Regions from separate parts of the Homo sapiens genome. Here region 2 is linked to region 1. Evidence: fine-mapped expression QTL. Tissue or cell type: monocytes. Region 1 holds a variant in brackets; the other region holds the start of a gene. All regions are shown on one strand. Distances are from middle to middle.

Evidence for each region. PIP is the estimated chance that this variant, and not a neighbour inherited with it, causes the effect.
Region 2: GOLIM4 starts here. The variant in region 1 is fine-mapped to the expression of GOLIM4 in monocytes (Fairfax 2014, PIP 0.95). The same link has a PIP of 0.9 or more in B cells.

What each region holds. Positions count from the first base shown.
Region 1 is chr3:167,904,714-167,912,826 of GRCh38, forward strand. It overlaps the pseudogene LRRC77P. Among named protein-coding and RNA genes, the nearest start is that of SERPINI1, 170 kb to the left of the region's middle. The variant A/G (reference allele first, on the strand shown) is at 4,679.
Region 2 is chr3:168,092,632-168,100,744 of GRCh38, forward strand. It overlaps GOLIM4 (golgi integral membrane protein 4), which reads right to left and starts at 3,293. Exons shown (of 16, transcript NM_014498.5): 1 at 2,468-3,293. The coding sequence starts at 2,654. RefSeq lists silencers at 3,069-3,118, 3,409-3,648 and enhancers at 3,320-3,821, 4,019-4,068.

The sequences.
Region 1 (8,113 bases):
TAAGTTAACTTTTTAGTGTTACTGATAACAAGGTAGACAGCTTTTGTTACTAGTTCTATTTTTTAAATGAAGATATTGGGATATTTATTGGAGCAAGGCCAAGGTCATTCAGTGAGTAAGTAATGCAGCTAAAATATCAAAGTTAAATTATTATTAAAAAGCCAGCTCTTCTCAACTTATTTTGGGGCAGCACTTGCCAAATTCTGCTCTAAAGAACAGAGTATTTGTTCCAAATACTTAACATTTTTTAAACTAAATATTCTGAGTTTGTTTGTACACATGTTTAACTTTGGCTAACAGAAGAATGAATCTATGGTGTAAATATTTAATATAATATTCTTTTCAAGTAATGTGCCTTTTGTTTGTGTTAACCTTGAAATAATAACAAGTTATATAAAACACTGGAACTTTGATTGACTACAACCTCAGTGTTAGTAAACAATTAAAATTGCCCCAAATGTGATCTTGGTACATGTTCTAGTCAGTAATATACTGTCCAGAAAAAGATAGCTTTACCTGAAATATTTCATTCAGTTTGATCTACACATTTTCAGAGCAATGTCAGTAAGTTGAAACTCTTTCCAAGAATAACCACCAAAATATTTACTAATTTATAGACCATTATCTATGAGTAATAATTGAATGACTTAGGAAGAGAATGACAACTATAATTAAACATTTAAAACAGTAAGCATACGTGGAAGGATTCTCTGTGCAGCCTTGAAAAAATAGAACTTGTACAATTGGAGCAAGTTAGAGGGATTATGTAATAAGCAGGGTCCATGTAATGAAGACATTTTAACAATTAGAACTGTTATAAATGGAATGAGACTGCTCGTGAGATATTAAAAAATATTAAAGGATGATTTATATAAATTGGTCTAAAGGGGATCATGAATGGGTACATATATTTATTCATGCTGTCATTTACCATCAAATGTAAAACAGCTGCAGGTGTTGGGGATGCAAAATTGAATAAGAACACATAATTTAGATTGGATAAGATGATTTCCATGAGCACACCATTAGATATTTGGAGTTCAATTTGGCTAAGTGTTTGGCATGGATTTGCATTACTTTTACACACGGAAGCAAAAGAACTACATATTGCCAGATGATATAGTGTTTCTCTTCTCTCTTGTTTTAAAGCTTCCATCAGATTCTTGTAAGTACCTCACTTGGCACAAGGTAGACATGACGTTCAAGGAAGTCAACTGCGTTGCCCAAGAGTAAGAGAAGGTAAAAGAATAAATGTGTGCCTTTTTCGTGTACATCCTCTGAATAGAATTTTTTGTGGATTAAAAGACATTACTTGAAGAAAAAAAAAAGACACCATTTGGAGGTAAAATTTTCCTTTTTCAAGACCATAGAATTGTTGATAAGTGAAGCCACCTTTGAAGGTATATTCTTATAACTGATTATATAAATAACTAACATTCAGTAATAAATATTGGAAAATATTGAAAGATAAAGAAGAACCTGTAACTGACTGTCCAGATTAACCACCGTGACTTTTATTTCCATTTACTTCTTACACACACATACATATATGTAATTTTTATTTCTTAAGTTTTTTCACTTAACAGAATGATATTGTCAGCATTTCTTCCATGCCATTAAACATTACCCAAAACATACTTTTTAAAGCTTGCATACTTTTCCATCATATTAATATCATTAAATATATTAAATATATGTAACCAATAATCGTTGTTGGAAATTTATTTACTATTTTTTATGATAACAAATAACACTGTCATTTCAACTGATGACTTTACATTGACTTAATTCTATATTGTTTTTTTCCAACAACATCAAAATAGAATCTAAATGTGTTCATCAGTGTTCTCCAGAGAAATGGAACCAATAAAATACACCTCTCTCTCTCTCAACATATACATCTCTCTATATATATAAATCTATACATCGAGAGAGATATATATATATCTAAAGAGATAGATGATAGATAGATAGAGAGATGAGACTTATTATAGGAATCACATGATTATAGAGACTGAGAAGTCCTACAATATGCCGTCTGTAAGCTGGAGAAACAGGGAGGCCAGTGGTAAAATTTGGTCTGTGTCTGAAGATCTGAAAATCAGGAGAGATGATAGTGTCACTCCATCAGGGTTATCAGGGGCCTCAATGGGTTGCATGATGCCTGCCCACATTGGTGAGGGCAAATCATTGCTCAGCCTGCTGATTCAAATGCTCATCTCTTCCAGAAATGCCCTCACAGGCTGTGATGGATAATTTTAGGTGTTAAATTGATTGCATTTAAGAATAACTAGATAAACTGGTAAAGCATTATTTCTGGGAAAGTCTGTAAGGGCATTTCTGGAAGAGATTGGCATTTGAATCAGTGGATTGAGTAAGGAAGATCTGCCTCACCCAGTGTGGGTGGGCACTATCTAAGTGGTTGAGGACCTAGGGGGAACAAAAATGCAGAGAAACAATGAATTTGCTTTCTCTTTTGGAGGTGGGACACTAATCTTCTCCTGCCCTTGGACATAAGAATTCGAAGATCTCTGGCTTTTGGACTCTAGGACTTATATCAGCAGGCCGCCAGATTCTCAGGTGTTCTCAGGTCTTCATCCTCAGACTGAGTGACACCATCAGCTCTCCCGGTTCTTAGACCTTCAGACTCAGACTGAGTTACACCACTGGCTTCATGGGTTCTCCAGCTTGCAGATAGCATATGGTGGGACATCTCAGCCTCTATCATTATGTGAGCCAATTCCCATAATGACCCCCCTTTTATCTATCTATCTATCTATCTATCTATCTATCTATCTATCTATCTATCTATCTCATATTGGTTCTGTTTCTCAGGAGAACCCTGACTAATACACAGACATATCCAGGAGTAATGTTTCACCTGTTGTCTGGGTATCCCTTAATTCAGTCAAGTTGATATCTAAAATTAACCATCACACTAAATAAACCAGGTAGTCTCATTTAACATTTTCACACAGCACTTTAAATTTGCTGGAATAACTATGTTTTGCTATTATTATTTTATTCTATCAGGTTTTACAAGGGTAATAGTATAACAATCTGAATAACCGCCATCTGCAGTCCTTGATATACATAATGTTTGATTTCAATAAGCAACTTTCAATAGATTATAAATTCTGTAAGAACAGAGGCCATGCATTTCTCATGTCTTTTTTTGCATCCACAAAAGCCAATGAAATAATATTAGACATAATTCCTGCTTCAGTGAGTGTTTAGTCTCCAGGAAACATCAAATCTTCGCTATCTTCCATCTATATTAGCAGATTTGCAGTAATATTGTATATTGCACAATTTTACTGTTGATTTAGGAAAAGTGGCTTTAGGTCTATTCATCTGCTCATTTTCCCTCTCAGTGGATCCCCACATGATGCTTGTCTTCTTTCACTCAAACTCAGTTGGCAAAAGAAGGGGAACTAAAATAGCGTAATTTTCTTATACTTTGAGTAAAATATGTTCTTATGCTTCAACTTTGTCAGCTCTATTTGCAGCCAAGCACTGACTCCTATTTTTAAAATGTGAGTAGATAGTACTACTAGGGATAAATCAGAGTTGTCCTTTCGGGACCTTGGGAAGATTTTTTTTTTTTTCCCAAGAGTGAGAAATTGTGAAGAATTAGGAAGGAAGGACACCAAGAGAAGTGGTGGCTGAGTGTGTCACATGTGTCAGGAGTCCTCCAGCAAAAGGAAGAGAGAGCTACGTCACAGGCTAAAGCAGGAAGGATTTTAGTCCTTAAGCTTTAGTGTGTGAACAAATCATCTTGAGGTGTGTGAAAAGTCAGATTCCTGGGCCCTACGCCCACTGAATCTGATGTAAGGGATGGCGCCCAGAATCCAGATTTGTAAAAAATTATCACAGGGAATTCTGTTGTAGATGATTTGAAGGCCATACTATGAGAAACACTGGTTTAAGAGGTATGAAGAAAGGGAGAGAAGAAAGAAATTTGAATAGGAAGTGAATAGACTGATAAGTAAAAATGCTGGCATGAGTGTGTGAGTGCAGAGGCAGATGGTTGATAATTGTGGCAGCCATCATAAGGCAAAAAGAAATCGTATTCTGAGCACAAGTGCTGGGTCAGGGTTTAGAGAGAACTACAGAAACTAGAGATGACAAGGAAATAAAATGTGAGGGTAAACTGAAAATGAGCTTGTGCAGAGAATGTCCAAAGTTCTCCTTCTCTCCCTGACTTAAGTGGCCAGGTTATGTGCTGAGGTCATCACTCAGCAAAACCAATCCAATGTAATGACCATGGTGGCCATTCATGCAGAGGACATCATTGCTCTGCAGAGATAAAAGCACATTTTCCTTCTGTAGGTCATTAACAACACCCAATCTCTTGTAAGTGACTAGTCATAAAAGGACCAGAGCGTGATCTAGGGGATGGAAAACATTTGAAAAAATCCCATCTCCTCAAACCAGGGAGAAATAGATGTCCCTCCTTCATTGCTCTTAATTTTGTTTAAGTTTGTTTTGTGACGTGGAGAACAAATGCTTTTCAAAAGCACTTTGAGAAGAATTACCCTCCTTCTAGATTAGATCTGGAAACACCCATCAAAGCTACTTCGGTTTATCTCAATTGCCTCAATTGTACATTCAGAAAGAGCTCATAAGACAGGAAAGGTTATCTGGTGTGTGATAAACAGCAATTGCCTAAGGCTTC[A/G]ATTGCCAGATCAAGACTGACTTAAATTTTCACAATTAAATAAAGCAAAAAAGTAAACTGGTGGCAGAATTCTTTTAAAGAATAGATTCTTTCCATTCAAAAATATCCCGGGAAGTTAGTTCAGTGACTGCTATTATGTGTTACAAATCCAGTGAGGGGACAAAGAACAGGCTGAGAGGGAGCAAGTGAAAGTCAACATCCCTGAACTGTCAGATATTCCAGACTGTAGTTCAGCTGCTAAGATATATCTTCAATTACCAACCAAGTCTGAGAAAAAAAAGAAAAATCCAATTTAATTCAACTCCTCACAGTGGAAGTGAACTTCGGCCCCCAACTTCAAAGAAAGCTTTGAAAGCTACTTTAAAAAGAAATAATTAAAAGAGCAGAAGATCAATAACACTCAAACAAACAATACAGGGAAGAGTTTAATAACTCTGGGTTATCTGATGTACAGAGAAAGCTGCCAAATTTGAAGTGGGGGTGGGTGAAAGACAATACAGCCTGAGGGTCTCCCTGCTCAATTAGGTGATTGCTCCAGTTTTCCACTTCTATGATTTTTAAATCCAAGCATCCTTATCAATGAAGAAGAACATTTCGTAACATAAGGATATTTTATTTGTAAGTCGGTTGAGATACTGCCTCATTCTGGGTCAAAGGATTTCCTGGGTGATAACAGCAGAGTTCATTATGAGAGAAATGACTGAAAGGGAAGTCTACACCCTGGCCTCCACCTGCCCCCGGTGTAAGAACTGATGTTCGTGCCGAAATAATAAAATACTGGACTCCCTCTTATTGCCTTCCATAAACTCTTCACAAATGAACTTACTACTTTCTATCATAGTCCACAAAAGCCCACAGGCCACAAAAGCAAAGTTTGTCTTTTGATGTCCTCAGTGTCCTTTTTCCTTTATTCTTTTACCTTTGAAATGAGGGGAGTCACGCATTCCAGAAACACAGAGTGGAGAAAGTGCATGCAAATGATACCAGATGTGACTCATAGAAATACACCATGATAGAGCTGGTAGGGAATTGAAGTAATTTAGTGTAGGGTTGCTTTCAGGGGCCTGGTTGACATAATATCAGAGTGAAGTTGACATAATATCAGAGGGAAGCACGAGAGAGTGTAGGGGCCTATGGCAATAAAAAAAGCCTATATTGTCCTTAAAGTACTAGAAATCAGTATTTTTGTAAAGCACCATACATGCCAAACAAACATGTTTTCTCACCAAATTCAGTTCGTGGTCAGCCCTTGATTTAGGTCTTCCCCCTATTTTTGCAGACATGAAAAACTGAAGATCAGGATATTAAAATTAGTCATCTGGAGTCCCACATTTACCTACCAGCCAACTTCAGACTGCAAACAGGACATTCTTTCCCTAACCCTGAAAGTTGTGTGCAAACCTTATTTGAAGGATGATAATGTTGGAAAATAGTGAGAAATGAGTTCAGAAATGGAAGTTGAGTTAAGATTATGGAAAGCCTTATCTGACAAGCTAGGATTTGTAGGCAAGAAGAAATTTCCGACATGTTTTCAGTAGTGAGTCCTGGGGTAAAAGCTGTGTTTTAGGAAGGTTGTATGGTAACGTTTGTTGTTTATATTGGAGGAGAGAATGTTGCAGGCAAGAAGATTCAAGAGAAAATAATTACAGTTTAAGTAGGAAGACATGAGAACCTGGACATTGAAAATGAAGGGACAGATTCTCAAAGGGAAAACTGCTAGGATAAGGTGACTAACTGAATTGAGACACAAAAGAGAAAGAAAATCAGGAATGACTTCACAATCCCCAAAGAGAAAATTATATGAAGATTAAATCACTATACTAGTGATTGTTCTCACTTGACTGGGCTAGAAATATTTATGTATGGTTAAAAGTTAATTCTAGGCCAGTAGTGGTGGCTCAAGCCTGTAATCCCAGCACTTTGGGAGGCTGAGGTGGGTGGATCATCTGAGGTCAGGAGTTTAAGACCAGCCTGGCCAACACGGTGAAACCCCATCTCTACTAAAAATACAAAAATCAGCCGGGCGTGGTGGCACATGCCTGTAATCCCAGCTACTCAGGAGGCTGAGGCAGAAGAATCGCTTGAACCCAGTAGGTGGAGGTTGCAGTGAGCTGAGATGGTGCCACTGCACTCCAGCCTAGGCAACAGAGCAAAACTCCATCTAAAAAAAAAAAAAAAAAAAGTTAATTCTACTTGTTGGCTTTTTTTCTACCATTAATAGAAGTAACTCCCTTCTCCTTTTAATAGTTCTAGAAAGCAATTAAATTATCTGTGAACCTTGAAATATATGCCCAGAATTTAAGGTATAAAAAATAGAGATATTTTATATTTTAACTGTCACATTTTCATAGTGATGTGCTAAATCTGAATTAAAAATAAATCTATGAGTGAAATTTTAAGCTAAAGGTCATCTGCAGTAACTTAGACCATGGATAGTATAAAAAAGGACAATTTAGGCCTGGCGCGGTGGTTCACGCCTGTAATCCCAGCACTTTGGGAGGCCGAGGCAGGTGGATCACGAGGTCAGGAGATCGAGACCATCCTGGCTAACACAGTGAAATCCCATCTCTACTGAAAATACAAAAAATTAGCCAGGCGTGGTGGCGGGCGCCTGTAGTCCCAGCTACTCAGGAGGCTGAGACAGGAGAATGGCGTAAACCCAGGGGGCGGAGCTTGCAGTGAACCAAGATAGCGCCACTACACTCCAACCTGGGAGACAGAGCAAGACTCCGTCTCAAAAAAAAAAAAAAAAAAAAGAACAATTTAAATAACCTAATAACCTTATAACCTATATTATAGCCTTAATATAGTTTAAAAAAAAACTTTCCTTTGCTTTTTAAGCAAAGAAGATGAAAAAGAAATAAAGTTGCTGATTTGTTTCATATTTCCCCTTTTTTGTATTACTCATCTTGTTTTGAGAGGGCTCGGTAGTAAGCCCCTCACACACAGCCACAGGCTCCTATAGCAGAAGGATAGTGAGAAAACTGAGTGGTTTAGATATTTAATAGTCATATTTTGATTAATTTATTATTGTCATAACTGTGAATCTGATTTAGTGTTGTCAAATAAGAGGTTTAGCTCAATTTTCCTTAGAAGAAATGAGAGGAAAGTTAGTTGGCAAAATTAAAAAAAAAATGATTTTCAACTATTAGAAAATGAAAAATGTGGTGAAGTCCTGGATCTTTTCCTGTCTTCAACCTTTCCCCCAACCAGGTTAGGAAGACAGGAGTGGGTTAAATCATTTTATTACTGCTCATACTATGTGGGTCAAATCATGCTTCCCCAAGTTGTGATATCTAGTGGGAGTTTCAAACAACTGGCCAATAGCAAGTGAAGATACCAGTCCTGCCCCCTAAACATACTTCCAAAATCTCAACTTGTGGTTCTTATCTAGGAATCTCTGAAGAAGAGCAACTTTTCAGACAGGTAGAGTGT
Region 2 (8,113 bases), 190 kb after region 1:
GCAATCCCACCTAACTAAACAAGTATTAAGACTGGAGAGCCTGATGTCCTAAAAGCCCATCTATGCAGGTGGTACACAGTGCTGTTGAGTAAAATGTCATTTGTCTTGGAAAAGGGAAGCAAAAGTTGCATACCACCAGAAAATGTACATTAAATGGCTTACACATGGGAAATCCAAAATAAATGCTACTGAAGTCAAAAGTGAATCCACAAAAAACAAAAACAAACAAAAAAATACTTTAGCCTGCTTGTGAAATAATTATTCATGCACAATTATACTGCAAGTTTTGTAGCACCATAATTAGAGAGGAAATGACAAAAGAATAAATTAAGAAAGGGACTTTGAAGCCACTTATTCAAATTAGGTAGAACATTTCCATCTGCTGCAAAACAAAAGTTGTATATTTTAATGATCCTGTATTACCATTTACCACCTCTCTTCCCCACTACCACCACCACCACTAAAAAAAGAAAAGGCAAATTAGAAAAGAAATTTCTAAAATTTCAAAATGAAATACTGCAAATAAAGGCCATTATTCAGAAATTAGGGCCTCAGTCAACAATATCCATCGTCCATCATAGGCCGTTGAGGCAAAGGAGCTACTTGAACAAAATATTTTCTTGTTTTATTTGGCTTTCAAAAAGCAAAGACACAGAAGCAAAGTCTCAGAAAGACAAAAGTGCCTGGGATGAACTTACTCGCCACAGTTCAGAATAATTTTTGTTTGTTGTTTGAATAAACATGCATTGATTCCCCTAATGAGTGTCAGGCACAGTGTGGTGCTGAGGAGGTAATGGTGAAAATGACAGCCTTTGCCCTCATGGGACTCCTAAGAGACCAAGGCACACACAACCTCATATAATCCACCATACATGCCCCTTCCAGCCATGTTTATGAAAATCTAGTCCTGTTATACTATTAGACGGTAAATTTTTCCCTTGGTCTGACTCCATGGAACTTCACAGGGAAGCAACTGATACCTTGTAAATAAATAAGTAAACAAATATCCATATTCTCATACCAACAATAACTCATGGGTAAATTTCAATGAGTTTAAAGAAAATTTTGTGAACCTAAGAGCGTATCAAAACGGGTTTTACTTTTGAACCAAGCCGAGCCATATATTTTCATTGCCTGTGGCTATGCAGCGTCAGTAAGCTAAAAATACTTTTCTTTCTTCTAAGTTGGGAAGAGCAAGTTAAGTCCAAACAATCGGATGTGTATCATTTTCTCTCATCTTAAATTTTTTACTAGAAAACACTCAAAATAACTGAAGCAAAGAAGAGGCATCTGTTTCATATCTGCACACACATACACAGAAACATCCCTCTAGCTTGCATCTATCTACCTAGCAATATTAAACAAGCTATATTTGCATCATCAGCAAAGTCTGCCAACATTTCACCACTTACAGCTATTTATTATTATTTTTTGGTTGGGGAGAAAGCTGCATAAGTATTGAAAACTAACCACAAGTAAAAGCTTGCAAAAAAAATATGTATAGGATACGTCCTTAACAAGAGGACATGGTGCTGACTTTGAATTTACGTTAAAAGTAAATTCAAATTCAAATTCTGAATTTACATTTAAAGTAAATTATGTTTGTGAAAATTACATTAAATTAGATTCTAAAATAGGATAGAAACTTTAAGTTCTTCTACAGGTCTTGCTCAAGTTGGGTTTGCTGTGCATGGCAAAGTGAAAACCTGTGTTTCTCCTCTTTGGCTTCCCGAAGCTAACTGTAACATACATGCATCTCTGTGATGAAGTAAAAGCTACTTAGGAAGACAAGTAAACCTGTTTTTAAAGAAATAAACTACTGCAGGATGGTGAATGGTATGTAGTGTGGACTTTTCCCACACATCCAGCATCTCTAAAGACATCCTATTAAATTAAAAGAATAAGAAATAAGAAACTAGCAGGTCCAGATCTAGGTTCCTTCCATTCGACTGGGCCATGACTTTAATTAAGCTGCTGGGTCATGGCTTAATTTTCCCTTGAAAAACAGCACAGTTTGAGAAATCTCTGCCAAACTCTTCATTTTTTAAGCAACTGACAAAGTCAACAAGAAAGCAAATACCTAGAATCCACGGAACAATGCTCCTCAGAGCAGGGCTGGCAGAAGCGGCGGAGGGCTACCAGTTTCCCTGCCCCGATTGCAGCTGGGCCTTTGACAAGAGCTCGGGTAAAGGACTATCTGTGCACCCGCCCACCAAACGCCCAGCGGGACGATGGGCTGGTGCTACGAAGTTCTAAACCTAACCGCTGGGAGGAAGAAGCGGGAGGATGAGAATGTCATCTCCCCTGACACTCTGGTGCCGGCAGTCCTGAAACGCTCACCTCTGACGTCCCTGAAGGTCAGAGGTGGCAACCACAGTGCCAATAGCTCACCAAAGCCACTTTTCCTGCCCGGGTGGAGGCGCGGGGCAAAGTTGGCCACCGGCTGCGCGCGTCCCGTTAGCCGTACCTTGTAACTGGGCGGAGAGGGACTCCTGGTGCTGCTGGTACTTGAGCGCCACCGCCTCGGCTTTCCGCAGCTGCGTCTGCAGCTCGTAGTAGAGCATCGCGCCGTAGAGAAAGCCGAACACGACGGTCAGCAGCAGCAGCGTCTGGAAAATCCGCTTCTGCTTTCGGGAGCACATCCCGTTTCCCATAGTCCCGCCTGGACCCAAAGCCGCGGCCGCCCCCGCCGTCTCCTCCCCTTGGTCCGAGCGAGCGTCTCAGCAGCGGCCGCCGCAGTAGGTGGCCAGACGCAGCATGAGGAGGAGATGCCAGACACAAAAGCCGGCCCGGAGGGGAAGTGGCGCCCGCTCAGCCCCCGCGCGGCGCGGGGCGCGCAGCCATCGACGCCGCCCGGGCAGCTGCAGCCAAACTTCTGCGAGGCTCGTTCTCCGCGAATGCCCGGGGCCGGGAGGAGGCCCTCCGCATACTTCAGAGCCGGCTGCCCTCGCGCCTGTCCCCAGATGCCTCCTGCCTTTTTTCCTTCTTCCCACTTTTTGGCCCCGCTGCCCCCGGGCAGTTCTTGGAGTCCCGCCCTGGCCACTCCCCGCCCTATCGCGGCGGCTCCCACTGCACGACTTTGTTGCCACCTAAGGGAGGGGGTGCGCGCCCAACAAAGGGACCAGGACTCCGGGCCGCGCCCCCGTGCGGCCTGCCCAATGGGTGGAAGGGTGGGGGCCAGCTGTCTCGGCTGGTTTTGGGGACGGCACAGCGGTGTCACTGACGGGTCGGCTGGTGCCTCTGCCGCCCCGCCACCTCCTGCCCAACTTACGTGTCACCCACGGCCCGGCTATTCTGGCCAACGGGATTCCGGGAGGAAGTCCCACTCGGCCTCCTTGCTCATTGGGCCCGTCCGAGCAGACGCTCCCTCCCTTCGGGGAGGCAGTGCCGGGCTCGATTGGATGCCGGCTTTGTCCGTCCGACCCCAGGGCCGCACCTTCCCTCCCAGTGCCGGGGCCGGCTAGGGGCTCTGTGGGCAGCGCGGCCGCCTGGCGCCGGGGTGCGCCCACGTGGAGTCGGAGAGGGTGGGAAGAGGCAGGCGGAAGGGCGAAGGGCGGGGAGCTTTGGGTGGGCGGGGGACTTGTCCGGGCCTGAGTCTGGGTGAGGTTCGGTGAACACGTGTGTGTGTGTGTGTGTGTGTGTGTGTGTGTTCCAGTTCTCGTTCGGAACGCACGTGGAGAGCGGAGTAAAATGTGTGTATGAACGAAAGAATGGATGGCAGTAACTGTGTGCACTCTGCTGAGTACACTTTCTTTCCCTGTCCAATAAACTGATGCGGCAGACACATGGGATAGCTACATAGCACAATCCCGGTAGTCAAACCAGAGATGCCATGTCGACTGCCTTACCCCATCCAGTGTACTAGCCTAGATGTGTGTGTGCCCACAGATGGCCCGGCAGGAGTCGGGAGACTGGAAGCACGCTAGACTTAATGTTCAATTGTCCACGTGGGCTGGGGAAATCGGCTTGCCATTGGCAGAGAGGAAAGAAATGGTCTCACATTTCTCCTCTAGCTGCAAATAGAATAATTTAAAAACAAATCGTACAGACTGAAATGAGTATCCATTCATTTTGTCATATGTATTTGTTTTATTGGTGGCAAAACACATCAGTTACATTTCTAAATTACATTTTAAAGGGCAACAAAGGTTCCCTATGTAAAAACTAGTACAGCACAGGAAAGGTAGTAACCACAAACCTCTTCGAAGAAATGTATACTGCATTTATTTTTTCTGTGTACTTGAGGGGAATAATTAAGGTTATGCACAAATGATAATTTTTGTTTCTGCTGTTGACCTGAATTCTAAGAAAAGTAAATTTTATCTGTCTGTATAGTGTGGTGTAATTTATGATACACTGCATAATTTTTATATTCTAACTGGACTTTAGTCGTTACCATTGCTAATGGGCCTGAGTGCTCAAAATGGGGGTAAATCTCTTTAGCTAAATGCAACAGAAAGACAGTTCCTGGTGCAAAAGTTTTTTTAGGTGGACTCTGAAATTATAGGTTGCTAAAGCCCTAAAATAAACTGAATTTATAACGATGCTACCCTGTGGCATTTATACCACTGTAAAAATAAAGTGTGTCTTGCATGTGCTTTTCCTTAATAAATAATAACTTGCGTTAAATTATTCAAAATGCTTTCGTGTGCAGATACACTGTCTCACTGATCACAGCCAGGGTGTTAGACTTTCATGTTGGTAAAGAAGCCAAAGTTTATCAAAGTGACTATGACAGCTCTAGGACCTTTTAGGTCTTGCATAAAGTTAGTTACTCAGCAAGATTAGAATCCAGATCCAAACCCTGCTCTATGTCTTTTTCTTCAATAGAAACAATGTTCTCATTCTATTAAACAAGTTACAGTAAGAAATTATATCTCCATTAACATGAGAATCTGATTGTAAAAGAAAACAGTCTAAAGGAGTTTGGGAGTTTTGTTGTGTAAATACTACATAATCTTCCTTATTATTAAATCTACCACTTTAAATTCCTCTTTTTTAGTTTGACTCTCAGAAATTAACATTGGATAATTACTGGAATCTCTTTAAAATTCCTCATAACTAAACATTCCTTACTGTTGTCAGAGTACTTTGTTAAACAAACTCTTCCTCCAAAAACACTATCCAAATTTAGGCTGGGCATGGTGGCTCACTCCTGTAATCCCAGCACTTCTGGGAGGTTAATGCGAACAGATCGCTTAAGTTTGGGAGTATGAGACCAGCCTGGGCAACATAGCAAAACCCCTCCTCTACAAAAAAAAAAATATATAAAAATTTAGCTGGGCATGGTGGCGTGCACCTATAGTCCCAGCTACTCGGGAAACTGAGTTGGGAGGATCCCTTGAGCCTGGTAGGTAGAGGTTGCAGTGAGCCAAGATCACACCACTGCACTCCAGCCTGGGCGACAGAGGTGAGACTCTGTCTCAAAATAAATAAATATATAAATAAATAAAGTTTATGGCAATAATCTTGCCCCATATTTGAAGAGAAAATTATCCTAGCCACAAAAGAAAAAGAAGTTGTATAGAGGGTTGGAAAATTATTGCTCATATATTGTACAATATGTATTTTAGAATCTTTGGAAAATTCTTATGTTTCCTGAATGTATGATTCATCTTAAACCTCTGATTCCTTTGCATCTGATTCCAGACTCCAAAGATATTCTTTGCCTAAAGCTGCTGGCTGACTCTACAGAACATAATAAATGCAGGCCATAAAACACAACTCAATATTTTAGTCATAAAATTTGAAAGACAGCAAAAATTATTACCTGAACTTATCCATTATTTCAAATTCAAGAAGGGTATGTAGAAGTACATAAAATTACTAATGGTGGTATTTTTATAATATTACATTTCCAAGGTAAAGTATGCTGCTAGTTTCCTGAAAATGTCAGTATAGAGCTTTTGAGCGGCCAACATGAGGAAGCTATCCAAGGCCTATAAAATGAATTTACATAACATTGCCTTTGGGTAGCAATTATAACATAACAGCTGTTTATACTGGTCTTGGAAGGTGTGTTGTTCATTCTATTTTATTTTTGCTTCTTTGTTATTTTAAAAATAGTATATATAATTATATTTCTATATTCCATATATTTAACAATATATTTAACTTTAAATTATAAACCCTGAAGAATTTTACTGATTTAGTATTTTATTTCTGAGGCAGGAAGAAATTAACTTAAAGATACTCAAGGTCTTACATTTGAGAAGGGCAAATATAACATTTGGGAATATTAATTCTCTCTAACTTAAGTGAATTTGTCATTTTAATCAAATTTGTTCATTTTCAAAATAAGGGAAGGAAAAAATAAAAAGTTGAGAGAGACAGCTGACGTATAATTTCTAAAAGTAAGATTTTAAATTAATAATATTTAGGATCCTAGAGTAAATAATTTCTATTATCTAAATCTTTTATTTAAATTTCTTTACTACAAATGGAACTCAATATTTTGTAATTTGTAGGAGAAATCATCACCTAAGAAAAGGTGATGAATAGTAAATAAAATTTAAAATAGCTTTTCAGTATTAATAAACTAATTTTAATCTTTTCATCTGACAATTACAAAAGTTATTTATCCTATAAAACAATCTTCACTCTATGATGTCTTCACCTTTTTGCCATTTCATCAGTTTGCTGTCCCCTAATGAATACACTTGCCTTGCTGATTGCCACTTTTACCTGACCTGTTTTGAGAGGTAAAGAAAGCTGCATTCAAGGTATTATGTCTTTTTGAACATTTTGTGAAAGATGTTTTGAGACTCCTTTTTCATAGGATTTTGATAATGACCTAGTAGTAATTGTTAGAAGATTAACAAACTAAAAAGTAGGTCTGTGGTTGAATGCATAACTGAGTAACTGAACCCCACTCAATGTATCTTTATGCCTTGTTTACATCTGTCACTACGTTGCCACCTTTGTAATTTTCAACTATATCTGAAGAGGAGGGCAGAGGAGAAAGTAGATGATTTGTTCTTATTTATAAAAATGCTTTTCAATGAGAGAAACCTTACCATCAATATCACTAAGAAATACCTTCTGAGGCCGGGTGCGGTGGCTCACGCCTGTAATCCCAGCACTTTGGGAGGCTGAGGCAGGCGGATCACGAGGTCATGAGATCGAGACCATCCTGGCCAACATGGTGAAACCCTGTCTCTACTAAAAATACAAAAATTAGCTGGGCATGGTGGCGTGTGCCTGTAGTCCCAGCTGCTCGGGAGGCTGAGGCAGGAGAATCGCTTGAACCTGGGAGGCGGAGGTTGCAGTGAGCTGAGATTGCGCCATTGCACTCCAGCCTGGCAACAGAGCGAGACTCCATCTCAAAAAAAAAATAAATAAAATAAAATAAAAATAAATAAATACCTTTTGAATACAGACTACTAATAATGGACGTGATTTAGAAGTCCCTATTTGCCACAGGATGTGTAGCTAGTCTAAAGGAAGAGGAACTATCATTTCAAACCTCTAACAACATTCTAAAGCAGGATATCTAGCCAACCCTAAACTTTTCCAAATTCTAAGGCAGTATACGAAATCATTATGAATATGTTGCTTAATGTTTGTTACAGCTAGCATATAATGAGCTAACTACCACATTTTTTTTTCAGTTTAATTTCATAGGAAGTTAGAAAGAATGGAAAGGGAGCATATGTGAGCCTCAGAAGTGAACTTCCTAAATCTTCCAATGGCTCATCCAGCTTCTCACCAACTCACTGCCTTTAATAGTCAAAGACTTTAGATAAGCAGAGATACCACAGAAAAGATCAGTGGCCAGTAAAACATGACATTTTTTAATGTCCCCTCCCCCAAAATATTATAATTTATTGGATTGATTTTTATGAAAGCTATACTTAGTTTACTCATGACCATTTTATAAAATTGGCATTACAATTTTAATATGTTATAACATATAGTAATTTTTTAATTGTGATGAGGGTGGCTGGTCATATTTATAAAGTATCCAATGCCAAGTTCTGGGTCAGAAATTCAACGTTTAATTTTAGAATTATTCCTAAGGGAAATAATAATCTGCTTCATAAATGCTATTTAAACTATAGTTTTCAGGAATATTTTGAGTCAGAACAAAATGACTACCAATAATTTTAGTTAG